2 linked regions of the Homo sapiens genome follow. The gene in region 1 interacts genetically with each later gene. Each region holds a gene or a part of one and is shown in the gene's direction. Other genes may lie near its edges. The genes, in order: CALCOCO1 and CTNNB1.

Region 1 (15,170 bases):
TCACTTCCTCTCCCTTCCATGACCCCCGCACTCCAGCCCCCTCTCTCAGGCAAGCAGACCTGCTGTCTGCCTCACACGCTTTCTCTTTCCCTCTCACCCTCACTCAAGCTAGTTACTGGGGATACCCTTTTCTGCCGAGCTCTCTACCATCTTTCCAAATGCTATTCTGTATTCCTCCACTTCAGAAATAATCATAGTTACCACTTATTGTACAGCAAAAGCTGAGCAAGAGCTAGGAGTGGAGGATTTGGAAGAAGAGAATGGATGGAAGTCAGTGCAAGATAAGAGAGGATGGATTTCAGATGTGGCCACAGGAAAGATAAGATTAGACTGTGTTCTTACTATTAAGAAACATTATAACTGGTGATCCAGGAATGTTATGGAATCTCTGCCCTGGAAAAAAAAGATGCAAATCATAAACTCTTAGCACTGGGATTGTAAGATATGTATGAGGGTATGTAAGAGGTCACCCTCAGGAGGCAGCCTCTTTAACATTTGACAGCTGTCATTTTTGTATCTCTTGTATTGAGCCAAACTCTCCTCTCCTATAACTTACCAGGGGGTCCTGAGACCTCTGGAGCCACACAGAATAAATTTCTTTCTTCTTCCAGAAAATTGTTTTCTCTACCAAGTAGCATAAATATTAACCACCACCTCCCATGTCCATCCTTCAAATTTTCACCAGTTTAAACACTCTAGTTCCTTATTTCATTAAATGACAAAATTATGTTTCATTTACTACTGGTAGGTGTGATATTTTAAAAAACTGTTTAAAAGAAAGAGGCATTCTATCCAAGGCCCAAAGTAATAAGTGAGTTCGTCTGAGAGGCTTCTTCAGGATATGTTAGTCTCACCCTAGGGAGATATTAGATGTCTACATTCTAAGTCATAGGTTAGAAAAGCAGTGGTCAGATTGAGCATCTGGAAAAGATTAGGGGCTATCTAGACCAGAGGTCAACAACTATGGCCCACAAGCCAAATCTAGCCTGCCACCTGTTGTATATCCCACAGGTAAGAATAGTTTTTACATCTTTTAATGGTTAAGAACAAATTAAAAGAAGAATATTTTGTGACATGTGAAAGTTGTATGAACTTCAAATCTGTGTTCAAGTTTTATTGAAACATCATGCTCATTCGTTTACATACTGTCAATGGATGGTCCTGCACTACAATGGCAGAGTTGAGTAGTTGCCACAGAGACCACATGGACTGCAAAGCATAAAATCTTTACTATCAGGCCCTTTACAGAAAGAGTCTGCCAACTTCTGGTCTAGATCAAAAGTTTATAATCAATAATGACTGCCCTTGTCTCAAAAAGACTAGATTCTAGTCTCTTGATTGAGTGAAAACAATGGGAGCCATCAGCAAAACATTCCTTAAAATATTACACAAAAAGATAAGAAAAACTATTTCTGTCTAAATTGTTCTCTAGAACCTGGAATCTTGGTTTCCTGGGGCTTAGAACTGGATCAGCTGGCTTGGGGATTTATGCATCCCAGAGTGAAATGGAGCTCTGGGCCTAGAGCAGCAGCAGCAGAGCACAAGACAGAGGCCTGAGTCCATTCCTTCTCTGGGTGGAGCAGATTGTCTGACATGTCATCCCACCAATCACAGGCTTAGAGACACAGTGAAGGCCCTGACTCGGGAACAAGAGAAGCTCCTTGGGCAACTGAAAGAAGTACAAGCAGACAAGGAGCAAAGTGAGGTAAGGGGCTCAGAGTTGATTTGCTTTCTCCATTGTCCAGCCAGTGTTTGATTCCCTCTCGAGAGCCAGACACCAAAGGGAATAAAAATGTAAAGAAGACATTGTGTGCACTCTACTAGGGAACATAAGACATATACCTAAATCAGGATTAGTCAGAGTGGAAAAGTGGAATATAAGAGTGTCACAAGAGAAATTTTTTTTGTTTGTTTTTTGGAGACAGAGTCTTACTTTGTCTCCTGTGCTGAAGTGCAGTGGTACGATCTTAGCTCAGTGCAACCTCTGCCTCCTGGGTTCAAGCAACTCTCACGTCTCAGTTACCTGAGCAGCGGGGATTACAGCCATGTGCCACCATGCCCAGCTAACTTTTGTATTTTTAGTAGAGACAGGGTTTCACCATGTTGGGCAGGCTGGTCTCGAACTCTTGACCTCAAGTGATCCACCCACCTCAGCTTCCCAAATTGCTGGGATTACAGGTGTGAGCCACTGCGCCTGGCCTCAAGAGAAATCTAATAAAGTATTGTGGAGCTCCAGGGAGGTGTATGAGTACACATCTTGTTAGAGACATTAGAAAAGTCTTTTTAAAATGGGTGTGGAGGCCAGGCACAGTGGCTCATGCCTGTAATCCCAGCACTTTGGGAGGCAGAGGCAGGCGGATCCCCTGAGGTCAGTTCAAGACCAGCCTGGCCAACATGGTGAAACCCCATCTCTACTAAAAATACAAAAATTAGCCAGGTGTGGTGTCAGGTGCCTGTAATCCCAGCTACTCAGGAGGCTGAGGCAGGAGAATCACTTGAACCCGGGAGGCAGAAATTGCAGTGAGCCTAGATCACACTACGGCTCTCCAGCCTGGGCAACAGAGTGAGACTCTGTGCCAAAAAAAAAAAAAAAAAAAAAAAAAGGGAGGGCCATGGCTGGGCGTGGTAGCTCACACCTGTGATCATAACACTTTGGGAGGCCAAGGCGAGAGGATTGTTCAAGCCCAGGGGTTCAAAACCAGCCTGGGCAACGTAGTGAGACCCCATCTCTACAAAAAATTTTAAAAATTAGCCAGGCATGGTGGCATGCACCTGTAGTCCCAGCTACTCAGGAAGCTGAGGTGGAAGGATTGCTTGAGCCCAGGAGGTCAAGGCTGCAGTGTGCTGTGATCGCACCCCTGAACTTCAGCCTGGGTGACAGAGCAAGATTCTGTCTCAGAAAAAAAAGGGGTGGGGTGTGGGGCCTAGTACTTTCAAACCTTTTTAGCAGAACCCTTTCCTCTCCTCCCACCAATAAAGTTTTTAATCTTGTGTGGAATCTCACTGAATAAACAAAAACAATGTTTTATTACTATAAATTTATTTTTATAAATTTGAATGTATAACCTTTACTTAAAAGGTAATGAAAGCACTTAGGTAATTTTGAGGCATACCAAACTTTGAAATGAGAGGCTATCGAAGACTGTTCTGCCAGCCTCAGCAACTAATGTATTTCCGTATTTTATTTTGGTTGTACAATATCAAGAACACCTTGAGTCACACACAAGTAGGTGCAAATAACAATTTTTAAACTGTCCACCTTGCAACTCAGTTTACTCTTCAATTCAATAGAAAATACAGTAGAAACTATTCTGAGCTTTGCAAAAAAATGAATTAACCTGGAAACATATGTCAATTGGTGATCTCCAGTGTGTTAACTTGTGATTTTATGGGTTTTATTTGTTTTGTTTGTTTGTTTTGAGACGGAGTTTCATCTTGTTGCCCAGGCTGGAGTGCAGTGGCGCGATCTCGGCTCACTGCAACTTCTGCCTTCCGGGTTCAAGAGATTCTTCTGTCTCAGCCTCCTGAGTAGCTGGGATTACAGGCACCCGCCACCACGCCCAGCTAATTTTTTGTATTTTTAGTAGAGATGGGGTTTCACCATGTTGGCCAGGCTGGTCTGGAACTTCTGACCTCAGGTGATCCGCCCACCTCGGCCTCCCAAATCATGCCGAGATTGCAGGCATGAGCCACTGCACCTGGCCTTGTGTTGTTTTTCTTTTTTTAACATAATTGTTAATAATTTAGAAGACATTCAAATCAAGTATCTGCAGAACTCCTAAATCCCTTCTTCAGTACCCTGGGTTTATGTGGAAGATTGTTAAAAAACCCTTTGCTCAGCAGTGAGAATAGGTAGAATATGAGTAGACAGAGATGAGTGTGAGGCTATTCTAGGAACAGAGAAAGACGTGAGCAAAGGCTTAAAGGCCAGAACACTCAGGGCAGTTGAATGTGCGGGTGAAGTGTTTGAGATAAGGCCTAGGTTAGACTGTGGTGGATCTTGAGCTTCATTTTTATTCCACAAGCGTGAAAGGCTTTGATGATTTTTCAAGCAGGGGTGACGTGTACTGTACTTATGGCCAGGTGTAGTGGCCCACGCCTGTAATCCCAACATTTTGGGAGGTGAAGGCAGGAGGATCCCTCGAGCTCAGGAGTTCAAGACAAGCCTGGGCAACATAGTGAGACCCTGTCTCATCTCTACAAAAAAATACAAAAATTAGGCAGGCGTGGTGGCACACACCTATAATCCCAGCTACTGGGGAGGCTGAGTTGAGACAATTGCTTAAGCCCAGGAGTTGGAGGCTGCAGTGAGCTGTGACCATGCTACTTCACTCCAGTCTTGGCGACAGAGCCAGACCCTATCTCTAAAAAAGAAAATAACTGTATTTAAAGAATCAGAACTGTACCTAAAGAAGAATAATCTGATTCCCTTGTGGAGAATGAACTATTTATGAAGTTATTCAGTAGTCCAAGCAAGAAATGACCAGAGTCTGAGATAACGTGGTTGTGGTGGTAATAGAGAAGGGAAAATGGCTGTGACCAGGATGGAGAAGCAATAGGTTTTTCTGTGGGCCGCTAGGGAGAGGACAGAGCCAAGCATGGCACCAAGGGCACCAGGTTACTCCATCCTGAGTAACGTGGGAGCTAGTTGGTACCCTGGACGGAAATAAGAGTAGGAAAGACTGGGATGGGGTGAGAGGTAGACTGTTGAGTTTAAGGGGCCTGTAGGGCATGAAGACTGAGTTTTGATTTAAGAGAAAGAATAGAGTAGCAGAAATGGTACATGGAATGCCTACACAGAAGACCCAAGGCTGCGATGCTGGATACCTCAATTTGGGAGCTGGAGACTGGATATGCAGGATTGAGTTATTTGAGCTGAGAACCCAAGAAGGGCTGGCAATAGCTGAAGGCTTGAGTGTGTGTTAAATCTGAGAAGTGGAACCTTGACCTCTCTCATCACAATGGTTCACCTCCCGAGCCACCCCAACACACATACCCCTTTCCTTACCTGCTTTCCACTTCCCTCAGGCTGAGCTCCAAGTGGCACAACAGGAGAACCATCACTTAAATTTGGACCTGAAGGAGGCGAAGAGCTGGCAAGAGGAGCAGAGTGCTCAGGCTCAGCGACTGAAAGACAAGGTGGCCCAGATGAAGGACACCCTAGGCCAGGCCCAGCAGCGGGTGGTGAGTGAGGCCCCTTGGCAACAGGAAACGGGAAATTCCAAGGGCAAGTTGTAGAGAAGCCTGCGTGTCTAAAGAGAAGGGGAGAGACATGGCTAAAGACTAAACAACACAACCCCGAGTCCTAATGCAGTGGAGTGGAGGGAGCGTTTACCTCCCTGGCTGATGAATGATTCACTAGGAACTCTGATCTCCATCTCCTCCTTTCTCCTGAGGCCGAGCTGGAGCCCTTGAAGGAGCAGCTTCGAGGGGCCCAGGAGCTTGCAGCCTCAAGCCAGCAGAAAGCCACCCTTCTTGGGGAGGAGTTGGCCAGTGCAGCAGCAGCCAGGGACCGCACCATAGCCGAACTACACCGCAGCCGCCTGGAAGTGGCTGAAGTTAACGGCAGGCTGGCTGAGCTCGGTTTGCACTTGAAGGAAGAAAAATGCCAATGGAGCAAGGAGCGGGCAGGGCTGCTGCAGAGTGTGGAGGTAGAGGGATGGGGGGTACCTGGCAATCTGATGGCCACTGCCCCCACCTCTGTGGGGACTCCTACATGTGGTCAGACCCTCTGGGAGGAGAGAAGAGGGGTTGAGAACCTTAGAGGACTTGGGTGGAGAGGGGCTTTGAGGGAGGTACACTTTACTTTCTAGGCATGACCCATCCCTAACCGGGGTATCCCAATCCTGATCACCAGAGTACCTTCCTTGGAACAGAAACATTTTCTGTCCTAGACCCCAGGCCCTGCCATAATGCCCATTCCTGATCAAGCAGCACCTGCCGTCATGTCCTGTCCTTCATTCAGAGGGTATAGGAAATGAAGGCAAAAAGGGGAAAGTGCTCTAAAAATGATGCTTTAAATAAAGGAAAGGACACAGTAAGGGATGGTGCTGTTGACAGTGGCGTTCCTTTTTCTTCCCCCTCCACCCTCCCATTTTCCTTCTTGGCTATCTCTCAGGCAGAGAAGGACAAGATCCTGAAGCTGAGTGCAGAGATACTTCGATTGGAGAAGGCAGTTCAGGAGGAGAGGACCCAAAACCAAGTGTTCAAGACTGAGCTGGCCCGGGAGAAGGATTCTAGCCTGGTGAGGCATCCAGCCACCAAGGGTCCTGTCCTATGGCCTCCTGAGGCATCCATACCCCTTCTCTCTGTCTTGGGTATGGGCTCAGAAGTGCTAGGTGTCCACTACCATGTTGGGTGGCATTTCACTTGCACACGCAAGCCCTCATTGGTTTGAAATGTGCATTTTTTTCTGCTCTCAGGGCACACATCTGGGCCCAGTAGAGGTGACTTAGGAGAATTATAGAGTGGCCCCTTGGTATGACCAAGGCCTCTGCACCCCAGCCTAGAGGAAGTCATGCAGGTCCCCACTCGAGAGGCAGAGACTAAGACTTAGAAAACTGAGTATCTGTGGCCCAAGACAAAGTACTCATGGAGGAAGTGTTGGGAATTCCTGTGTGTGTGTGTCAGAGCAGGGAAGAAGCAGAGGCATGGGGAGACCTGGTTCTAGATTGTTGGTCCTGGTCCCAGAGTCCAGGTTCTTGGAGGTACATTCTAGGCTCCAGATTCCATTGGGCCCTCTTCCCTCAGGTACAGTTGTCAGAAAGTAAGCGGGAGCTGACAGAGCTGCGGTCAGCCCTGCGTGTGCTCCAGAAGGAAAAGGAGCAGTTACAGGAGGAGAAACAGGTGAGCACCCATAACCCAGGCCCCGTGGATGCCACAGGTGAGGACTTGAGGGCTAGAAACTTTGTAAATTCCTGTCATCTCTTGGCTTAGAAACTGTTCTCTCCAAGAGGGCCCGTACCCTGGCTTCTCTTATTAGCTGATTTGGCAGGACAGCGGATGATCTCTGGGAGAAGGGAGGGATGTAAGTGGTGAAGCAGGGGTGCTGGGGGGAGTGTCTGCCTGAAGTTGCCCCAATCTTTGCTGAAGGCATCTAATGCTGAGGAGCTAAGAGTTCTTCTTGGGTGCAGCTTCTGCAGGCTAGCAAGGTTGGCACCTTCCCATTCTCTAGCACCTGCCTTTTTCCTTCCCAATTCCAGGAATTGCTAGAGTACATGAGAAAGCTAGAGGCCCGCCTGGAGAAGGTGGCAGATGAGAAGTGGAATGAGGATGCCACCACAGAGGATGAGGAGGCCGCTGTGGGGCTGAGTCCGTGTAGCCCCAATCTTGTAACACCTCTTCCCCACTCTACCTCCCGCTGTTGAGGAAGGCTCCATGTAACCTTGCTGGGAGCTGCCTTTGCCTTCTATGTGTTTTGCCTTTTCTTTCCCAGACCCTGGCCCCTGTTTAGTCTAATGATACCCCTCATCCAGAGGAGACAGCTGGTCCAACTCCTCACAACACATCCTTTTTTCTTCTCTGCCTGCTTCATCTCCTACAGGCTGCCCGGCAGCTCTGACAGACTCAGAGGACGAGTCCCCAGAAGACATGAGGCTCCCACCCTATGGCCTTTGTGAGCGTGGAGACCCAGGCTCCTCTCCTGCTGGGCCTCGAGAGGCTTCTCCCCTTGTTGTCATCAGCCAGCCGGCTCCCATTTCTCCTCACCTCTCTGGGCCAGCTGAGGACAGTAGCTCTGACTCGGTGAGCAGTGGAGGAGCCTGTGCAGAAGCAGTAAGGAGGGGCAGGGCCAAACCCAAGTGTCCCAGCCTGGAGTGCAGCACGATCTTGGCTCACTGCAGCCTCTGCCTCCTGGGCTGAAGCGATCCTCCCACCTCAGTCTCCCAAGAGTAGCTGGGACCACAGGCAGGCACCCCCGGCTAATTAGAGAAGGAATCTTAGCTATCCAGGGCTCTCTTTTTCCCAGGGGAGAGGAGGCAGGCCCAGCCTCTCTTCAGTGCCACACCAGTAGATATCATCCCAAAACCCAGACCAGCCCAATAGCCTCACTGCTTCTCCCCCACAGTCATTCTCTTATTATTCACCAGCCCCTCAAAACGCCTCTCCTGCCTCACTCTTCCTAAGCCCCTCAGGTCACTGTCCTAGCCTTGGCTGCTCTTCCCATACCTGTCCCAATGTGCTGCTCCCCCATCTTGGGACACCACCCCAAAGCCCAACCCTGTCTCTTTGGCATCCAGGAGGCTGAAGATGAGAAGTCAGTCCTGATGGCAGCTGTGCAGAGTGGGGGTGAGGAGGCCAACTTACTGCTTCCTGAACTGGGCAGTGCCTTCTATGACATGGCCAGGTGAGTTCAACCAGCAAGGCCAGGAGGGAGGTGGGAGGAGGTCAGAGGGAAAGGGCATCTGTGTGGACAGTCACCAGGCCCTGCTCCCAACCCCTGCCCTTCTTGGCCTCAGCCAAGAAAAGGAGATACAGGTATGGTTAACAAGGAAAATGACTCACTGCTCCAAATCCCAGATGCCTTCAGGTAATCCCTACCCCTATCTTATCAATGCACTCAGAGGTCCTGCCTTTAACTGGCTTCTATGTTGTTCTAGCACCATCTTCTGCAGAGCCCAAATTGCCCTGCTTCCCCTCTCTCCTGCCTCTACCCCTTCCCCAACCACCAGGTAGGTACCTAGGGTCCTCCGGGGAGGAAGGGAGGTGACCATGGCCCCCAGGGATAGGAGCAGAGAGAAGACTGGGATCCAGCATCCATCTGGCTACAACTGAAATGCTTTCCCTCTTCCCTGACTTCCCTGGGTAACCCTTAGGGAAGGGAACCTATAGAGGTGGGGGTTTCAGGTATCAGATTGTCCCCTTCTGCCTTCCCTTTTATTCCCAGGTTCAAGGGGGCAGGCACAGGGAAGAGAGATTTGATCATCTAGTCCCGGTTTTGCCTGGATGTGAGATGGGCTCAGGGCAGGGAGGGGGTGATGCTGTCATCCTTCTCGGCTGGAGCAGGAAGATGAAGGACGATGTCAGACTCATTTTCAGCCTCATTAGGCAGCAGACGGAGATGGAGGGAGGAGAGCAGGAGGCTGGGGGATGGGCTCTGCACTGCAGAGACCAGCAGGGACTAAAGAAGAGAGGACATGGGGAACTGGAAAAATAAGCCTTCCAGGATTGTGGGGAGAAAGACGCTGTGGGAGAGGCCAGGATGCTGCATTAGGCACAGGATAACCTGGGAACCCAGGCACATGGGTCCTGCTCTCCGAAGTCTGCAAGTCAAGAAGGGAACAGAGCACGCCGACCCTCTCCCTTTCCCCTCTGTCTCTCTTAGTGGCTTTACAGTGGGTACCCTGTCAGAAACCAGCACTGGGGGCCCTGCCACCCCCACATGGAAGGAGTGTCCTATCTGTAAGGAGCGCTTTCCTGCTGAGAGTGACAAGGATGCCCTGGAGGACCACATGGATGGACACTTCTTTTTCAGCACCCAGGACCCCTTCACCTTTGAGTGATCTTACTCCCTCGTACATGCACAAATACACACTCATGCACACACACACTCACACACATGCATACACTTAGGTTTCATGCCCATTTTCTATCACACTGGGCTCCATGATATTCTGTTCCCTAAGAACTGCTTCTGTGTGCCCTGTTTTCATCCCAAGATTTCTCACTTCATCCTCTCCTACCTGGCTCTTTTGTCCCAGGGAGGGGTCCTGTTCGGAAGCAGTGGCTGAATTTATCCCCTGAAAGTGGTTTTGGAGGAACCGGGATGGAGGAGGCCTTCCCCTGTGGGAATAGAATCGTCCACTCCTAGCCCTGGTTGCTTCTGATACACAGCCACTGCACACACACACTCACACTCACACTCCCTTGTCTGATGCCCCAAAGCCAATTCCTGGGGCACCCTACCCTCTCTTATTTGGAGTTTCCGTTGGTTTACCTGAGTTTTCTCTGGGGTCTGCACAGAGGCAGCAGCATGGACATCATGGCCTCTCAGGTCCCTTTTGGTTCTCAGTTTCATTGGTTCCTCTTTCTGTTCCCCCATTGACTTCTGTGCCCCACCCTAGCCTTTTCCATAACCTTAGGTATTCAGTTTGGAGGGGTTTTTTGTATTTTTGAGGATTCCTGTATTCTGTATCCTCTCCTCGCATCTCCTCACATGGAAAGAAATAATGTATTTGTGCCTTCTGTGAGGAATGGGGGGAACAAGTGGTCCCAGGTATCCCCATTTCCAAGGCCCCCCTCCCTCTCCAGGTCCCCCCACAGCAATAAAAGCTTCCCCCTGATATCCATCCCTTTGTAGTTTGAACAAATATATTTATATGATATGTATGACTGTTGTCACAAAATGTGTTCTTATCATGAGGTGTGACTGGAACACAGGGCCCAGACCTCCAGCTCTTAGACCCTGGTGGAGGGAGGAGGGAAAGAGGGGACGCATCCCTGCCTCATGGCAGGGGATGCTGGGCAGTTACTGTCCTGTCGTGCCTCCTGGTGTGCTGGCCATGAGTGGGTTGTCTCAAGTGGGAGTCTGGCTTGGATAATGCGGCAGTTGGGGAGGGAGCAAACTCATGGGTCCCTGTCACTTCTGCTCAGGGTTTAGTCCCAGGGTGGGTGCATGCCATGGAAAAGTGGGACAAGTTTCCCACTGCCGAGAACTTCACCCTTCATAGCAGCCATCACTGTACCTTATGCCAAAGGACAGGCTTTATTCCTGTCAAGAGCGTACACCTTTGAGTATCTACTTAGTAAAAAATGCCCTAAGCCTCATACCTCTAAAGGCGATTTTATATTCCTCCTGTTTCTGTTTCTGTTTCTTTCTCTGTTGCCATCCCCTCATACCTGTATGCACACTCTGCCTCAACAGTCACAAAAACACATTCATCCACTCTAACCAGCTTCACAGGCTAGACAGACACATACACAGCATCGTAAAGCATTTGTTAAGGACCTGCACGCTCACCAAGGCTCTCAGCAATGGCCTGCACAAGCACATGCCTACAACCCCCTCGTCCTCCAACCCAATAGCTCCCTTCTCAGCTGCCCTCCTCTCCCTTCAGGGCCCCTGTGTGGACCACCCCCACCATTCCCTTTCTCCATTCACCTGAAATGCTCCTGTCCACCCCCTTTCCAGCCCCACCTGGATGACTTCTTACATCGTTCCTTCTTCCCTCACGTCTCCGTCTCCTAGCAACCCCATCCCGTTCCCTGAATCCCTTCCAAGGAAATTAGAGATAATGGATCTCTCCTCTCTCCATCCCAACCCCTCTTTATTGATCCTCCTTTAATGAAAGTTAATTATAACAATGATTTAATTAATAGAATCCCTCTCTTCCTTTATTGCTTCCCGTATTAAGACTATTAATAAATACGAGCTGGGCTGACAGAGGCATCCATCACCCGCCTGGGATTCCCCCCATCCCTCCTTTTACCTTCCCCCCTCTCCCTCTCCCTCTCTTGGCCTATAAACTTGCCGGGGTAGTGGGGGTTAATCAGAGAGGAATTATGAGCCAACATCCCCAGCAGGAGGTGCATTTAATGAAATCATGTGTGATTTATTTTCTGGGGGAGGTTGGGGCGAGAAGAATCTGGGACCCACACCTCCTGGCTTCCAGTGAGTGGCTGCCTTGTGCAAAAAAGGAGAATAGTAGACAAACAGGAACCCAGGCCCCTGCTCCCATGCCACAGCCCCTGCCAAGCCGCACATACACCCACAGGAGCCACATGGCTAGCTGCACAAGGCCACTGATACAGACACTGTCAGACTAAAAGCACTTAAGAGGACTGCGGTATAGGTTTTGTTCTTTCCAACCTCGAAAACTTCACATGGGTCCTTCTCACCTCCTTCCTTTCTCTCCAGCCCTGTTCTGCTTCACTGTCCCGAATCTGCTTCATACTCCCCTCCTCCATGAAGCCCCCCAACCCCCCACCAGGCTCCTCAACATGGATATCTAGAGTTTCTAGCTGCTCCTTTCTCTGCCCTTTGTGTGTCTTTCTGGCATGCAATTTGCAGTTTCAGACTGGGGGTGCCACAAAATGTGGGGCCATTTCTCTTCCTTACTCATGGTTTGCCTATCCCAGTATCCAAAGCATGGTCCCCGACACAGAGGGGGCTCAAGGAAGGGTAATTGACGGCATGGGCTGGGGGAAACCCAGGGGCAGCCAGCTTCCAATTCTAGTTCTCTTTCCTACTCACTGAGGGGTATTTGGCAACTCAGCCTTTCTACTTATTTCTCTTCTATAATGGATCATCCCTTTCCTCCCTGCTCCCCAGCATCCATGCAAAAGCCGATAGATCTGAATGGGCTTGAGACTCTAATGTGAAAGGAGATGTCAGCCAAGTAGCAGCAAATAGGAACTCGCGTCAGTATTTGGTGGTGAAAGAACGAATCCAAACACACCACTCCCCCACTTATCGAACCTCAATGGCCACCTGTTACCTACAGGAATGAGAAATGTAGATTGCTTAGTGTGCCAGTCAGGGTCTTCACCATCTGTCCCAACTTGCCCTTCCATTTCCCATCTACCCTAAGGAACCCTGTACTCCAGTATAACAGAACCATTCCACAAAAACATACACTACTTTCCTCCTAGCTCAAAGGATACCACCTACATGGAGCCTTACTTGACTGCCCTCAGTTATCCTTTGACATACCACGTAGAGCACTTTATAAAAAGATGCTACATGTGTTTACAACTTTTTATTCTCCCTAAACTGTAAGCAACTTGAAGGCAGATTCTATGCTTATACATCACTGTGTTCCTAAAATCTAGTATAGAGACTGGAACATAGGACCAGTCCTCCAGAAATAATCTTTAAGTTATTTTAATGAAATGTTTTATACATACAAAATAATATATGTAATGAATAATAAAGTGAACATCATTGAGCTCACCAACTAGCTTCAAATAAATATTACCAATACCATTAAATGAAGTGCCATGTGTTGCTTCAAAGAACAAAATATGATGTCATTTGGGATAGAGGTGTTTCTTTTCTTTTTTTTTTTTTTTTTTTGAAACAGTCTCGCTCTGTCGCCCAGCCTGGAGTGCAATGGTGCGATCTCAGCTCACTGCAACCTCCGCCTCCCAGGTTCGAGCGATTCTCCTGCCTCAGCCTCCTGAGTAGCTGGGATTACAGGCACACGCCACCATCCCTGGCTAATTTTTGTATTTTTAGTAGAGACAAGGTTTCACCATATTGGTCAGGCTGGGGGATAGAGATGTTTCTATTAAATCAGGATACTTGTAGAGTGCTCTGTATGGGTCAGGTGCCGGGGAATGGAGATAGAATAGTGAAAAACCCCACCCTCAAAGAGCTCTTAGTTGACATAAATCACCAGATACAAGGAAACAAGATAAATGCTACTTTAGAGGTATGCACAGCATGCTATGGGACCACAGAGAGGCAGATACTTAACGAAGACTGGGGAAGGCAGAGCTTCCCACAGGTGATAATGTGGGGTAGACGTGAGCCAAGCATGTGCAGGCAGAAAGAACAAAATATGCGAAGACAACTTACTCAGAAGTCTATACACTCAGGTAGGGCTGCCAAGTGAGGATCTTAACCCAGTGTGGGAAGTGAGGCTGGAAAGGTGAACTGCTGACATTTATTCATACATTCACTCAACAAGTATTAATTGAGTGTCCACTATGTGTCAGGTGCTGTTCTAGATATTGGAGAAGCTGCATGAACAAAATAGGAATTGGCTAGGTACAGTGGCTCACACCTGTAATCCCAGCAACTTGGGGGGCCAAGGCAGGAGGGTTGTTTGAGCCCACGAGTTCAAGACCAGTCCGGGCAACATAGCAAGATCCCTTCTCTAAACAAAAATTTTTTTTTTTTTTGAGATGGAGTCTCACTCTGTCGCCCAGGCTGGAGCTCAGTGGTGCAGTCTCAGCTTACTGCAACCTCCGTCTCCGGGTTCAAGCGATTCTCCTGCCTCAGCCTCCTTGAGTAGCTGGGATTACAGGCGCGAGCCACCATGCCCGGCTAATTTTTGTATTTTTAGTACAGACGGGGTTTCACCACGTTGGTCAGGCTGTGCTTGAACTCCTGACCTCATGATCCACCCGCCTCACCCTCACAAAGTGCTGGACTTTACAGGCGTGAGCCACTGTGCCCGGCCAAAAAAAATTTTTTTAAGTAAACCTGGCATGGTGACACACGTACCTGTAGTCCCAGCTACTCAGGAGGCTGAGGTGGGAGAATGGCTTGAGCCCAGGAGGTCAAGGGTGCAATGAGCTATGATAGCACCCTACAGCTTTGGGTGACAGAGAAAGACCCTGTCCCTAAAAAACCAAAAGCAAAACAGGAATTTCTGCCCTCATGGAGATTATACACTATTGCCGGATCATGAAAGTCCAGATAAACCAGTTAGGAATCTTGTAATAATCCAGGTAAAAATGGTGAGCATCAAACTTAGTGTCAAAGGGAAAAGAAGCAGAATTATTTAGGAGGCCGAATTAATGAAACTTGGTGAAAACTAGGTATGGGAAGTGAGCAGGAGTCAAGTTTATCCCAAGTTTCTGGTTTCAATGACCAGATAACTGATGATGCCATTCACTAAATAAATACAATTGGTCCTCTGTATCTGTGGGTTCTGCATCTGCAGATTCAACCAACCATGGATCAAAAATATCTGGGGAAAAAAAAAACACACAAAATAACAGTACAACAACTGGCCGAGCACAGTGGCTCACGCCTGTAATCCCAACATTTTGCAAGGCCAAGGCGGGCAGATCACCTGAGGTCAGGAATTCGAGACCAGTCTAGCCAACATGATGAAACCCCGTCTCTATTAAAAATGCAAAAATTAGTTGGGTATGGTGGTGCATGCCTGTAATCCCAGCTACTCGGGAGGCTGAGGCAGGAGAATCGCTTGAACCCGGGAGGCAGAGGTTGCAGTGAACCGAGATCGAGCCACTGCACTCCAGCCTGGCAACAGATCGAGACTCTGTCTAAAAAAAAGGAAAAAAAAAAAGAAAGGTCTCCCTGCATGTATAGAGAGAAGGTAAGAGGACCAAGGGCAGAACTCAGGAGAACAGCATGGAAGGGAGGTATGGAGAATGCAGAATTATGGAGAAGACAGAGGGATCAGTCAGAGAGGTAGGAAGAAACTCAGGAGAAATGAATCAAGGAGAGAAGCCAGTAGTGGCAGGTGCAGCAGGGAGGC
Region 2 (15,170 bases), on another chromosome or scaffold:
TGAGGATGTCCTTTCACACCAGACAAAATTTGGTTAATTTGCGCCCAATATTCATTACTTTGACCTAACCTTTGTTCTGAAGGCCGTGTACAAGGACAAGGCCCTGAGATTATTGCAACAGTAACTTGAAAAACTTTCAGAAGTCTATTCTGTAGGATTAAAGGAATGCTGAGACTATTCAAGTTTGAAGTCCTGGGGGTGGGGAAAAATAAAAAACCTGTGCTAGAAAGCTTAGTATAGCATGTAACTTTAGAGTCCTGTGGAGTCCTGAGTCTCCCACAGACCAGAACAGTCATTTAAAAGTTTTCAGGAAAAACCAACTTAAAAAAAAATAAGGTGGCTAATTAAAAAAAAATGAAGCATTTAACAGTGTTCAGGTTTCAGAGTATGGAAGAGGGGTTTTTTAAACTGTTATCTGATTATTTCTTTTACCAACATGATATAGAAAAGTGTATTTCCAGTATTAAAATTTATCAGACTGAGCTTACTGTTCCTGTTAATGACTGGAATAAAAATTGGCATAAATGAGGGTCTGTATGCTTGTTTTAATAACACCACCACCAAGATAGAAAACGAGGAGGCAAGTTTCTCCAAGGGTATTTTGAAATGTGTTAGCAAAACTATTGCAGATACTCGTTTTTGTTATAGGGTGAGGTGGGGAGAGGCGCATGCTAAGTATTGTTGAAACTAGGGATGTAGAGAATTAAAAGTTTGAATATAATTATTTTGTAGTTATAAGTAGCAGTGAAATTAAATCTCCTGCAATAGACTATAGAAGTATATTTAGCCAAATGAAACTTCAGTGTTATTGAAATGAAATAATACATCTGTCCTGTTACAAGATTATTTTTATTTCTCTTGTGGTTTCCTAGCTTCTGATAATCAATAATTGTAGATGAGTAGGTGGTAAGTTTTAAGTTTGTACTTTGAGCTTAGTCGGAAGCATGCTTGACTGCCAACCCGGGGCACAAAGGATGAAGGCTTTTAGAACTGGACAAACTTCTAACAAAAGGTATTTGCAACTCTTTTGTAGTGTGTCATGTTGATTTGTGACATTGTTTTTGAAAATATGTGTTAACTTAGTTTTCTTGTAGCCCTCTTTTTATTGGAACTGTGGTATCTATTGTTGAAACTGCTTGACTGAGAACATTTTTATACCATAAAAGTAAATAGTAAACATAGCCCAGGAGCGGCTTCTGGTTTGTCCATCGTATGTAGCCATTGCCTCCTTGTACTCTCATTGAGAAGATACTGATTTGCAGATTCAGTTGTCCTTCTCTAACAGACTATTTATGTAATATTGCAGTTGTGATTGTGATAGGTAAGTGGACCAGTCGGTTAAAATAAATACTCAGGTTTCACAAAAGGAAAATAATATGATTTGTGTTGATCTAAATGAGTATAGGAGTTAACTCCTATAGTTTTTCATCACTTAAACTCAGGGGAAAGTTCTTTATTTCCTCTGTTTACTTAAGAATGCTGCTTTTGTGTTTCATGCAAGACTGAGCTTGACTCAGTTTGAAACCTAGGCTCATCTGTTGAGGCCTGAACCCTGCTGTCCTTGAAGTATGCATATAATTTGCTTCCTTCCTAAGGAAAAATAAGCTCTTGAAAGATAAAGTCAATCACATTAGGAACCCATTTTTAGGGTTTAGCCACTTTTTTTTTTTTTTTTTTTTAACTCATGGGCATCTCTTCTGTTAAGAGACATTCCCCACTCTCCAAGTTTCCCTCAAGCCTGAAGCAGCAGAGTGAGTAGTGTTGGAGCATGTTTTCATTGCATGCTTGGGTCATGTTGAGTGCCCTCCAGTGGATATAGTATAATGCTTGTGATTTTTTTTTTTTTAATTCCAAACAAGTTTATGTGGGATATATTTAGGAATAGTTCTGATGAGGGAGAATCAACTAAGAAACCTTTGATTTCTAAAATAATTAATATCATTACTGCTAATTAAAATACAGGCTTGAGAAAATGTCTTCTCAGCCAATATTTGCAGTAGAAAAGTCGGGAGGTTTTTTAAGGTCACTTTGAGTAGGCAGTTCTGCTTAAATATATCATAATGATAAACCAGAATCTCAGTATAGTACTTTAGGAGGTAAAAGATCATAATATTCAGTTATATTGATGAATTACAGCAACTGAAATTCTCAGAAAAAAATTAATGAAAATGTGAATTGTCAATTTGTCTAAAATCATTCACAGAGTAAAACATAAGTGCTCAACTTGATTATATTAGGAAATAGATAGAAATAAAGGTAATTGAGCCAGTGTATGTGACCTAAAATATAATGCCCTTAGTGACCATAGGGTTGGTCTCATTTGTACATAGTGGTGGGCCATGATGAACTGTGTTTTGCCCTTTGAATTTTTCCTTAAAAAGCTTTCTCTAGGCTCCTATGTTCATGGTTTTTCTGTTAGTAATATTATTTTCTGAAAATCCATGTTTCAAATCAGAATCTAATTAGCAACAGGAATGAAGCTTATTCTAAATTAGTTTTTGGAAGTTAAACGGTCAGCATATGGAAATTTTTCAGGGTTTAGATTTTTAAAAATTTGTTTTTCAGAATATGTTGCTGGAATGAAAACGTTAGCGTAGGGACGGAAAATGACACTTACCAGTGATTGCTTTACTTTGCCTGTGGAATTCAGTGTAATTTTGTGGAAACATTGGTATATGATTTTTTACTACTTAAGAAATGTATTGCTATAGTTAGGGTTTTTTTTTTTTTAAAGGCAAGAATGCCTCAAGTGCTTTATGTGAATGATTATTTCAGGATGGATTAAATATTCCTCCATCAAGGACCATACTTGTAAATCAGTGATTTCCAAGTTGGTGCTTAGTATTTACAGCATTTACTGTCTATAAGCTTCTGTTCTGATTTTTCAAGAGTTTTCTGAGAAATGAGAGTAGGCTTAAAAGTTCTTTGAAAAATTATGTACATACAACTTACTGAAAAAAATTGCTACCGGGGACTTAATTTGTCTCTTGAAATGGGCTACTTGCCTTCATTAATGTAGCATACTACAATTTGATGTTCAAGATATGTTACTAAGAATAAGATCGCTTTCAGAAGCCTTATATAGGATTGGTCTTACTACATTGTAGTGGGAATGGCTACTCAAATGTCTCCAGGGCCAGTTAGGTATTGGGTAAATGGGACCATGCAGACTATTAAAAATTGAAGTGCACATGAAGCAGCCAGTCATAAGCAGCTCCAGCCACTGTGTGGGAATATAGTTTATGTTGCCAGATCATCTGATTTCTTTCCCCTAAGTGGGAAATCCAGATCAATGTACATCTCTTGATTTGCAAGTGTTGGTGAACAAAATTCATATTTTAAGATGCTGTATTCAGCACAAATTAAATACACTTATTTGCTGAATACTGCCAGTTTGTCCCTCTGCAGTAGTACCATTTGAAGTACAGTGTTTTCATAATGATTCTGTGAAATGACTGGTTCTGTGAATGTACATAATTTAGCAGATAACATTGTTAAATTATTAGGTTTGTATTTATTTAGGCACTTGGGAAATGCCTTGTGTCAATTGATTATAGATTAGGAGCTTAAAAGCAAGATTTATATTATCAACTTATTTGTGAAGACTGGGAAACCCACATTTTTAAAGTTAGGAATTAAGATGGCCAGGTTCAAGGAAAAGGGGGAGAAGTAACTTTCTTATTACTCAACCATCTTAAATAGAGTTCTTTAAGTGTATTTTTAAGAGGTCTCAAAACTTAATCTGAAGGGACGTCAAATGCTGGACAAATTCTGTGTATACAACTCAAGTCAGCCCCCAATTTTACTGGTCTTTAAATCATGTCCTTTTTACCAGAAGTTTGCATTTCTAAGCTAAACTATTACTGTTAGACTAGATCCAAAACTTAAAAACAGTTTAGGTAATTAAAAATTAATTGAATATAAACGTTTTACTTAAATTAATGGCAAATGGCTTTTTGGCCAATTTAAGTTTATGTAGGCAGTTAAATCGATTTTGGTTAAATCTTTTGCTGCTAACAAGGTATTTCCAGATTTTGAAAAGTGGGGTGGCCTGGTGCCTGTAGTACCAGCACTTTGGGAGGCTGGGGAGGGTGGATCACCTGAGGTCAGGAGTTCGAGACTAGCCTGGCCGACGTGGTGAATACAAAAATTAGCCAGGCATGGTGGCAGGTGCCTGTGATCCCAGCTGCTTGGAAGTCTGAAGCATGAGAATTGCTTGAACCTGGGAAGCGGAGGTTGCAGTGAGCTGAGATCACGCCACTGCACTCCAGCTGGGGCAACAGAGCGAGACTCCATCTCAAGAAAGAAAAGTGGGGTGTTTAGTCTTCAAACTCCGTGTTTAAGTGACTGGAGTGAAAATGTAAATCATAGGCCGGTGTTGGTTTAAAAAGCATCATCTGAAAATAATGCTGTAGTCTGCAATTATTTTTATTACGATACGATGGTGTAAAATACAAGCAGATCAGTGAACCATTCATGAAACATTAATCCTAAAGGCGTCTCACCCCAAGTCTATCCCACAATCTCCATGAGACTTCGTGGAACCACTGTAAAGTTTCTTGTGTAATATCCCAGAAGTTTCCTACCTCTGGTATCTTTTGAACTTGTTGAAAAGGCTTTTCCACCCCCTCTTTATGATGGTTTGAAGAGTGTGAACATCTGAATGATGCTGGGGTGAAACTGCTTCATAACACTTCCATTTTCTCCCCTATTTATTTCCATATTTTTATTTTTTCACTAATATCCCCACGGTTTTACTTCTGTTTTAGTAATTCACATGTTGCTGGACTAATTCTTTTTAACTGACTTGTAACAGATATGTTAAACCGTTTAAAACTTGGGGGGTATTTTTAACCTACTTTAAGTTAGTTCAAGTTAATCAGTCTACATGGCATATAAACCTTATGATTAATAAATCTTAAATGCTGGTAGCTGAGTTGGAAGCCAAAGACGTACAAAAAAGCTGAAGTGTTAGGTTTAGTGTGATAAGCTTCTCTTACTAACAGGGTTTTGTAATAGCAGAAATAGATATATGCATATATATGTGCATATATATAGCATACCTTATTGGATGTCCATATAAAAATGTGTAAGAAGTTAAATTTACTGCAAAATTTCTTGGGAGTGCAATTTGAAGATGATCTTAAGTGGTGATAGTAGTTTGCTACACTGGGGGATAGTTGTTGCAAACTGCTCCTAATTTTCCTTTACTGTGAAGTAAACTGAACAGCTGTAATAGGGATTAGGAACTGTACTCCCTCTCTCTCTTTTTTAAGTATAATTAAGTGGTTTTGGGGTAAGGGTGTAGGGAGTGAGTGTCTTTGAAGTTTTGCATATACTAGATGAATGCCACATGTATAAGGGAGGAACAAGGGATTCTTGGAAATATTTTTCAATCCAAGTAACTTTGGAGGCTTCCAAGTGGAGTTCATTCCCCTGTGTAGGAAAGTGCTGGGGTAGACCCTTAAATTCCTTTCTGAGCCATTGAAAGAATGTCCTCAAACTTCGCTTATACTTTATAGTTCATTTAGATACAAAAGTTACAAACTGAATGCTATTTAGGAAACGTAATACACTGACATACCGCTCTTTAAATAGATTATAAATTTAGTATATCAATTTTCTGGCATTTTGCTGAATTTTATTGTTTAGTTTTCAAGCCCAACTATCTTGTTACTTTGTATATCGTAGTTGTCCCCCGTTGATCACTGTTTCCTGCTTAATTGTGCTGTCGTTTTTCCTGGGTCCTGATTCAGAGTGTCAGCATTCTGTTCCCCATAGAATAAGAAGAGGCTAGAAAGTTTACAGATGAGATATCTAGGAATGCCAGAAGATCAGGGGTCACCGTTGAGGCAGAGTAATTAATTATGGTTAAAATGGTGTTGCTGATAAGTGGGTGCTGGGAAATAATTAAAATTTGATTTTTTAGAAGAATACTTCTCATGCTTGAAGAGCGCCCTCATTATATGCTAAAGGGCCTCAGGTTTTTCCTTATTGCCATTATGCTGCAGATTCTATTACATTTGTCTGAAAAGATCTAAGACAGAAGGGCTGTTTAATACCTTCCCTTTTCTCCTGAACTTCCCCTCTCCTCTCCCCCATCAGGAGCTAAGTAGGAACCCCTTCACCTTGTTACCATCAGATTTCATCAATGGTCTGTCTTTACAATGAAGGAAGTAGTACTGCATTCTGGGCAGAGGCCAGTCCTGAGGCATGCCTTTTCAAGGACATTGTTACTTTAGTTACACTGGCTCTTCTGTTTTAACTCTTATCCCCCAGACTCTAATCCTGTTGCTTTTTTTGGTCCCCATCTCCCACCTTTCATCATCTGAAATCCATTCATTGTAACTTCTGGAACTCAGTCGTTAGAAAATCCTTTATATTCTCAATCTTGTGAATGTTCCTTTCTTTCTTATTCCAGCTGTAACCTAGCCTTCTCCCCAAGAATGCTACTTCCCTTGCAGCTCTCTCAAGTGGTGAATTTTTCCCTTCTTGCACACCTTATAACACTGAACTAGGAGGTGTGTGGACTAAATGTCTGCTTTTGTTCCTTATTGTCACTTCTTGACCTTTATTTTCCAAAACTTCAAGCTTTGACTTTCATGTGATCAAATTATACCACCCACTGCCTGTCTTTATTTCAAGCACCTGCAAACCTTCCTGGGTCATTCACATCCTTCTTTGTTCACTTCATTAGCTCTTGGCTCATTGTCACTGTCTCTTATTTCTGTCATAATTCTTGGTGACATCAGTATCTATGTAGAGCAATACTAGTGAAGATGTGGTCTGGTAACTGTTACCTGTATGAATTAAGATAAGGAGTTATGCCAGAATATAAGTCACCTGTGTCACTAAGTTTACTGTTTAGCTTACTTTTTTTGTAGCAAGATTTTGATGAAGGACGCAATATGTTGATTTACAGTCTGGTACAAATTTTGATGTAGAAGATGCTTCCAATATCCTGGTCTCTTAGTTCCTTGATTTCTTCTCCAGTGATCTTATTTTCTACCCTAACTCAACTACATATTCCCATTGTCATATCCTAGAATATTTTGTCTTTTATCTGTAACTCTGCTCTCTTCCCCCAATCTCATTTCAAGCATCCCACTTTCTAATTCCTCTAGTAAATACGTCAGTTCCAACAGCCCATCAATCCCATTGGGACCTACAGTTTATCTATCCAAGCTTTTCCCTGTTCCTCACCCTCACTTCTATACAGCTGAAGTTTCATACTGAATTATAATCACTTTCTCGTATACACGTTTAACAATCTTGTCCCTCCCTGGCTTCATGCCCAGTGATCTCTTGTATCTATGACCATGTCCTTTATCTTCTCCTCTGTCACTGGATGAACTGTAGCCTTCCAAGATAAGGCCACTCAGTTCATTTGTACAGCAGATTCCATCCCCTCTTGCTCTCAAGAATATTACTGTGGTATCTCTCTTTTCTTGTCTCTACTGGCTCTTTCCATGAGCAAACATGGTATTATCCCATTACAAAAAAAATTTTTTCTCCGTCTCTCCTTCCACTCACCACCTCAGTCTCTGCTTCTCTTTCCCGCAAAATAACCTTGAAAAATTGCTTTATGTACTCCCGTTTTCTTTTGAACCCCTGCCAGTGACCACCACGTTATAAATTTGTAGTTGTCATCTCACTTAATCTGTTAGTAGTATTTGGCACCATTGCTACAGTTGCTTGAAATGCCTTTTCATTGGTTTCCAGGCCACCATGTCTGTTAGCAGCTTTTCCTCTTACTTCACTAGCATTTCCTTCTTTGTTTTTTCTGTTATCTTTCTGACCTCTGTTGGAGTGGCTGAAGGTTTAGTCCTTGAATCTTTTTTTGTTGTGCATATTTACTCCAGTATCATAGCTTTATACAGATGGTATTTACATCTGTTTGCTAACGATTTCCAAATTGGTATCCTTAAACTGGTATCCAGCTATTTTTTGGTCAGCATTTTGGATGTCTAAGAAGCTTCTCAAACTAAACTGACCTCCCGGTTTTCCCCAAAGCTGCATCTTAGTCTTTTCCGAAATGCAATTCTGTCTTTCCAGTTACCTAGCTTAAAAGCTTGCAGTTCTTGACTCATCTTTCTCTCATACCACGTATCTGAATTCTCTCTGCAAAAAATTGTCTGTTCTCCCTTCAGAATAAAGTCACGTGTCATTTTATGATGGGGATACATTCAGAAATGCGTCATTAGGAGATAATCATGGTTGTGTGAACATCAGAGTATACATAGACAAACCTAGATGGTATAGCCTACTACACATCTAGGCTATATGGTGTGGCCAATTACTATGATGAATACTGTAGGTAATTGTAACATAAAGGTAGGTATTTTTATCTAAACGTATTGAAACATAGAAAAAGTACAGTAAAAAATATGGTATCAAAAATAAAAAATGGTACAACTGTATAAGGCAGTTGTGATGAATGGAGCTTGCAGGATATGTTGCTCTGGGTGAGTCAGCGAGTGACGATTGAGGGAACGTGAAAGATGTGGGACATCACTGTACACTACTGTAGACTTTATAAACACTGTACACTTGGGCTACACTACATTTTTGTAAGGTTTTAAAAGACTTTTTTCTATAATAAACCTTAAATTACTGTCACTTTTTTACTTTATGAATTCTTAATTTTTTAAACGTTTTCACTCTTGTAATAACACGTAGCTTAAAACATACATTGTACAGCTGTACAAAAATTTTCTTTATATCTTTATAAGCTTTTTTATATTTTTAAAATTACTTTTTACCTTTTAGCTTTTTTGTTGAAAAACTAAGACATGGGCCAGGCGCGGTGGCTCACGCCTGTAATCCCAGCACTTTGGGAGGCTGAGGCAGGCGGATCACGAGGTCAGGAGATAAGAGACCATCCTGGCTAACATGGTGAAACCCCGTCTCTACTAAAAATACAAAAAATTAGCCGGGCGTGGTGGCGGGCACCTGTAGTCCGAGCTACTTGGGAGGCTGAGGCAGGAGAATGGCGTGAACCCAGGAGGCGGAGTTTGCAGTGAGCCGAGATAGCGCCACTGCACTCCAGTCTGGGCGACAGAGCGGAAACTCCGTCTCAAAAAAAAACAAACAAAAAACTAAGACATGAACACATTAGCCTAGGCCTACAGAGGGTCAGGATCATCAGTATCACTGTATTTCCATCTCCACATCTTGTCCTTCTGGAATGTCTTCAGAGGCAGTAAACATAAATGGAGCTGCCACCTCCTGTGATAACAGTGCCTTCTGGAATACCTCTTGAAGGACCTACCTGTGGCTGTTTTATAGTTAACTTTTTTTTTTTAAGAAGTAACAGAAGGAGTACACTCTAATGATAAAAAGTATAGTAAGTACATAAACCTGTAACAATCATTATCATTATCAAGTGTCATGTACTGGACATAACTGTATATGCTATACTTTTTTTTTTTGAGATGGCATCTCACTCTGTCACCCAGGCTGGAGTGCAGTGGTGCGAGGATAGCTCACTGTAACCTCAGACTCCTGGGCTCAAGTGATCCTCCTACCTCAGCCTCCCAAGTAGCTGGGACTACACCAGGCACCCCACCATGCCTGGCTAATTAAAAAAAATTTTTTGTAGAGACAGGGTCTCACTCTGTTGCCAGGGCTGGCCTTGAATTCCTGGCATCAAGTAATCCTCCCACTTTGGCCTCACAAAGTGCGAGGATTACAGGTAAGAGCCACCATGTCTGGCCCACTGTACTTTTATACAACTGAAGCACAGTAAACCTACTGTGGTTTCGTTTACACCAGCATCACCACAAACACCATGAGTAGAACATTGTGCTGCGACGTTAACGATGGCTACAACATCACTAGGTGATAGGAATTTTTCAGCTCCATTATAATCTTATGAGACCACTGTTGTATGTGCAGTTCATCATCCACTGAAATGTCCTTATGTGATGCATGTCTTCATATCCAAAAATATTAATCATTTCTCACTGAAGCCATGCCATGCCATGCCATCTTTTGCCTGTATTATTATTTTTCAGCTTTTATTTTAGATTCAGGGTGTACATGTGCAGGTTTGTTAGAAAGAGTATATCGTATGATGCTGAAGTTTGGGATACAGTTGAACCAGTCACCCAGGTAGTGAGCATAGTACTCAATAGATAACGTTCTAACATTACTCCTCCTTCCCTCCCTGTTCTTGTCTCTGTCTATTGTATCTTTATGTCCATGTGTACCAAATGTTTAGCTCATTCTTGTGAGAACATGTGGCATTTGATTTTGTTTCTGTGTTAATTTGCTTACAATAAATAGTCTCCAGCTGCATCCACATTGCTACAAAGGACATGATTTTGTTCTTTTTTATAGGCTGCATCATATTCCATGGTGTATAGGTACCACATTTTCTTGATCCAGTCTACCGTTCATGGGCATTTGGGTTGATTGTATCTTTGCTATTATGGATGGCTTTTGCCTATATTATTGGAAAGGCCTTCTAACTGGTGTCCCTGCTTACACCGTTTTCCCCCTTAAATGTGTTTTCAACATGGTAGCCAGAGTAACCCTTTTTATAACAATAAATCGTGTAACTTTTTTGTTCAGAAACTTACAGGGCTTACCATTTCATTCAGTAAAAGCTCAAGCTCCTGTATAGTCAGACCATATCCTTCATCACCTGTTACTTTTCTCCTCTGACTCTTCAGCCTTTTTGTTTTTCCTCAAACTGATGAAGCCTTCATGGCTGATGTCAGATGTTTTGCCCATTGAGATCTTCCTTGTTGACTCAGTTGCACTTGGTCATATGATTTTCATTTATTTGGGGTATCTAATCATAATCTGAAAGTTGGCTACTTATTTTTACCCCTTTGAGGGTCCTTGCCCTGTTTTTGTATCCCTGATAGCGGGACAGCCAGATATCTGGAACTTACAGGTGTTCAATAAAGTTTTGTTGAATGAATATTCTGGAATCACCCAACCTTTTTTTTCCCCTCCACTTATTTTTCTTCTCCCTTTCACGGCCTGAAAGATGTCCTATGTATATGGTTCCACTTATCACTCTCATCCCAGTTTGTGATATACTATTCCATTATATTACTATTATTAATACAATTCCATTGAACTTGCTCTTGCTGACTTCACCACTGGACCTACATGTTGGCCAAATGGATACTTTATAATTTTAGTCTTGACCCCTGCCTTTGGCACATTTCTTACCTCTAGCACAGCACTGTCCAGTAATCCACACTTTCTGAGACAGTGGAAATGTTCAGTATCTGTGCTGTTCAGTTGGTAGCAACCAGCTACCCATGCCTATTAAACATTTGAAATGTGGCTGTGTGACTAGTGGCAATTATGTTGGAGAGTACAGTTTTAGAAACTCCTGTTTTTCTTACATGGCACTACATTTAGTATCACAATCTAATTGTGCAAGCCAGATAGGTAGGAGTCATCTTTATTCCTGTTATTTAATTTTTCTCATCTACTATATCCAGTTCATCACATCAACAGCGCCTGTTGTTTCTACCTCCTAAATATTTCTTTAGTCTAACTACTACTTGTCCCTAGTGCCACCACCATCTATCAGCTGGAATATTGCTATAGCTGCCTTACAGGTTTCCCTTCTTTCCTGTTCTCTTCTAGTTTTTTGAATTTTAGTCAGCACGAGATTTTAAAAACTCAAATAAGATTGTGTTATTCACCTGCTTAAAACCTTTCATGACTTTCAGTGTCACGTAGAACAGAAAACACTTTTCTTACCAAAGGCTAGAGAGCTCTACGTGATCTGGCTATTTTTAACGTTTCATTGCACTCACCCTTTTCCTCTATAATCAAACTACTCTGATCTCAAGGGTTAGTTCTTGAAAGATGATCATGTTCTTTAATGACTTTAGGTTTTTGTGTGTTATTTTCTATTTCTGGGATGTTTATTCTCTGTTCCTTACATGCTGGCCCTTTTGCATCCTTCTTCAGGTCTCAGCTTACATGTTACCTTCAAGAAGCCTTTGACCACTCTAAGTGGGCCCTTCCTTCCACTTCTGCTGTGTAATCCCACTCCCTTCTCCCACTTGTTAATTAGTTACATACTTTTTTGTAATTGTTTATTTGGTTGCTGTCTCCCTCTCAAGAATGCAGGGACCATGTCTGCATTCTGCAGTAATCACTACTGCACACCCAGAATCTATTACAGATCCTGGCATGTAGCTGATGCATAAATATTTGTTGAATGAAAGTCTGTACATTGTATTTATGCTATTGGTATTGCTATGACCTGAAACTAAAAGGAGTTGTGGAAAAGATTTCTTATGGAACAGAAATATCCCTTTTGATTAATATCACAATCTCGTAAATTGAGAAAACAAAAAAATATATACTACTGGAGCATTCATGTATAGTTGGAGATTATGACTCATTTATTGGTGTGTTTTTGGACTCAGAACAAAGATGAGGGAATATTCCTTAAAGCTCTGTATTGAAATAACGAAAAGCAGTCACATTTTAATAATAGAAGCTTCCTAGCTTACTCTTTCTGTAATCTTCTTTTCCTAAATGTAAGAGAGCCTCATAATTATGAGGCTTATTACTAGAGTAAGGCTGTCAAAGGCAGCAAAATGTCTTTCTGTTTGGAAGAATAACATAAACTTGACATGTATGGTGGGGGACAGAAGGTTTCAAAAGTTTAAGAATCTGTGTTGTCTTAACAAATAGATGCTTCTCAAGGAGCTTACGCTAGTGGTTACTCTGTCCAGTCAGGGTTTTTTCTTCTTTAACTTGGGTTCATTTCCTGATGGCACACATGAAGTTTGGATCATATGGTTTGACTTTAGCTATGGTCCTTAGCTATGGGGAGCAGCATCAGCGACCTGTGACATGTAAATTAAAAATACAATGCCAGGGCCCTTCCCCAGCCCCTCTGATAGAGAACCTCTTGGCCATCTGTATTTTTAGATGTTCCAGGTTAGTCTGATTAACACCCTTGGTTAAGAACCATTGGGAGGATCTGATTGCCAGTTTAAGGGGACCTTCAAGCCTGTAGGTCTTTATAGTTAAAAAAAAAAAAAGATTTTAAAAATCATGCATATGTTGTGGCTGAATTCTGGTTTAGCACATACTGCTTTTAATGGCCTGAAATGTTTTTCCCAAATAAATTGTCTTGTTATAGCTTTCATGTGTGATTTGGTCCAGCTTCTTGTTTTGAAGATACTTACGGGGGGGAACACTTTGTGATTTCTCTTAGTAACATATTAACCCACTTAAAAACCCTTTCTATTACAGGTCTTCACATTTAGGCTTAATGTGCTTAATTCAAATGTAAAAATACACCTGCCTTTGTTCTCAGTGAAAGTATGTAATAAATAAATGAGGGGTTGGCAAACTACTGCCCACCATCTGTTTTTTTATGGCCTATGAACTAAGAATCGTTTTGGATAGCTAAAAAAAAAAATCAAAAGGATAATTATTTTGTGACGTGAAAATTATATGAAATTCAAATTTCAGTTTCTGTGAATGAAGTTTTAATGGAACACAGCCATCCATGCTTATGTAAGTGTGCATATTCTCTGGCTGTTTTCACTGCAATAGCAGAGTTGAGTAGTTGTGACAAAGAGTTTATGGCCCACAAAACCTAAAATATTTACTTTCTGATGCTTTACAGAAAAAGTTTCCTGAACCTTATTCTAGCTATATGTTGTTCATAAATGAATCTTTCGTGGTTCTGAAGGCATTTAAGAATCTCTTAGGTTATAAATTGGCTGGGCGCAGTGGCTCACGCCTGTAATCCCAGCACTTTGGGAGGCCGAGGCTGGTGGATCACGAGGGCAGGAGTTCAAGATCAGCCTAGCCAAGATGGTGAAACCCTGTCTCCATTAAAAAAAAAAAAAAAAAAAAAAAAATAGCTGGGGTTGGTGGTGGGCAGTAATCCCAGCTACTCGGGAGGCTGAGGCAGAGAATTGCTTAAACCCAGGAGGCGGAGGATGCAGTGAGCCAAGATCGCGCCACTGCACTCCAGCCTGGGCAACAGAGTGAAACACCATCTCAAAAAAAAAAAAAAAAAAAAAACACTCTTAGGTTATAAATAATTGTTGTTAGCTCTCCAAGCCTCCATATTACATTTTGTGTGTTCTCCTGTTCACATTTTGAGCATTTTATTTTTTATTAGCACATTCAGTTCATCAGGTATTTAAGAGCTTAATATATGCCAAAGCATATATTAAGCGAGAAGCTGTTTCTAAATGTACTGTCTCAGCCCTCACAGAGTTCACTTCATTAGGCTCTTTAAAATTTCTTTCTTTAAAAGGTCAGCGTGCTGGTATAGTGGGGAAGGGAAACTCTTACAACACGTCGAGTAGAGGAAGGTTATCATTATGGGATATAATTTGGAAGTCATTGAGTACCTGCCATTAATTCTGCCTGTAGTCTGAATGTAGAGATTAACATGTAGAAACTTTTTTGAAATAAAATCTTCAATTTCTTTGGCATATCTAGTACTGTCTAGCTAGGCATATAGTCAAAGTATGGTGTATATTTCAAGTATTAAAAGTTTTTTTGGGCTGTAGTCACTGTTGAAAGGATATAGTTCTTTACTATTACATGTGATACCTTTATATAAAATTGGCTAACCCCTGTCTTTCATTTATCTGCAACACTGACTGTTACCAGTTGTCTCTAACTTTGGTATGGGGGGTGGAAATATGATTAGATTGAAAGGGTACATGACTGAGCCACAAGCAGACCTGGATTTGAATTTTAACTGAACGGTTTATTAGCTATTCTTACATTAATACTGCTAATCAGTTTTCTTGTGATATGAGGAATGATGTCTTCTTTATGAGGTTGCTAGGAAGATTCAATGAGATAACATACTAGGCTCAGAACTGAAGTTGCTAGGAATTTAATTATGCTACCTTGTTAAAGTATGTCAAAGGCAGAATTCAGTGTTTAGCTGATACCACAAGGCAGTATCCTAAAATTATGCTGTAAAAGATATAAAGATGCTGTAAGTGACTCAGAAACCTAGTGACTTTGTAATGCAGTTGATTCTTAGAATACTGTCACTTTAACAGAATAGGAGCTAGGAATGAAGAAATAGTTATTAAATTACTAAAATAGAAAATTTATTGACACATGTAAAGTGACATTTGCTTAAATATTGAAAAATTTGTAGTACTATTTCCTTGCTTTAGAAAACATTGGTTACCACT

Evidence for each region.
Region 2: of CALCOCO1 (region 1) and CTNNB1, changing one enhances a phenotype caused by changing the other (phenotypic enhancement), as found in Homo sapiens cells (one study listed by BioGRID).

Annotation. Positions count from the first base shown.
Region 1 is NC_000012.12:53,706,274-53,721,443, reverse strand, and holds the end of CALCOCO1 (calcium-binding and coiled-coil domain-containing protein 1), read left to right. Parts: intron 1-1,614; coding exon 1,615-1,705; intron 1,706-5,028; coding exon 5,029-5,184; intron 5,185-5,396; coding exon 5,397-5,651; intron 5,652-6,118; coding exon 6,119-6,244; intron 6,245-6,750; coding exon 6,751-6,846; intron 6,847-7,202; coding exon 7,203-7,311; intron 7,312-7,543; coding exon 7,544-7,743; intron 7,744-8,237; coding exon 8,238-8,344; intron 8,345-8,597; coding exon of another isoform or gene 8,598-8,669; intron 8,670-9,322; coding exon 9,323-9,500; 3' UTR 9,501-12,927; downstream 12,928-15,170. UniProt on the Homo sapiens protein: Functions as a coactivator for aryl hydrocarbon and nuclear receptors (NR). Recruited to promoters through its contact with the N-terminal basic helix-loop-helix-Per-Arnt-Sim (PAS) domain of transcription factors or coactivators, such as NCOA2.
Region 2 is NC_000003.12:41,201,377-41,216,546, forward strand, and holds part of CTNNB1 (catenin beta-1), read left to right. Parts: exon of another isoform or gene 1-1,012; intron 1,013-1,680; exon of another isoform or gene 1,681-15,170. UniProt on the Homo sapiens protein: Key downstream component of the canonical Wnt signaling pathway.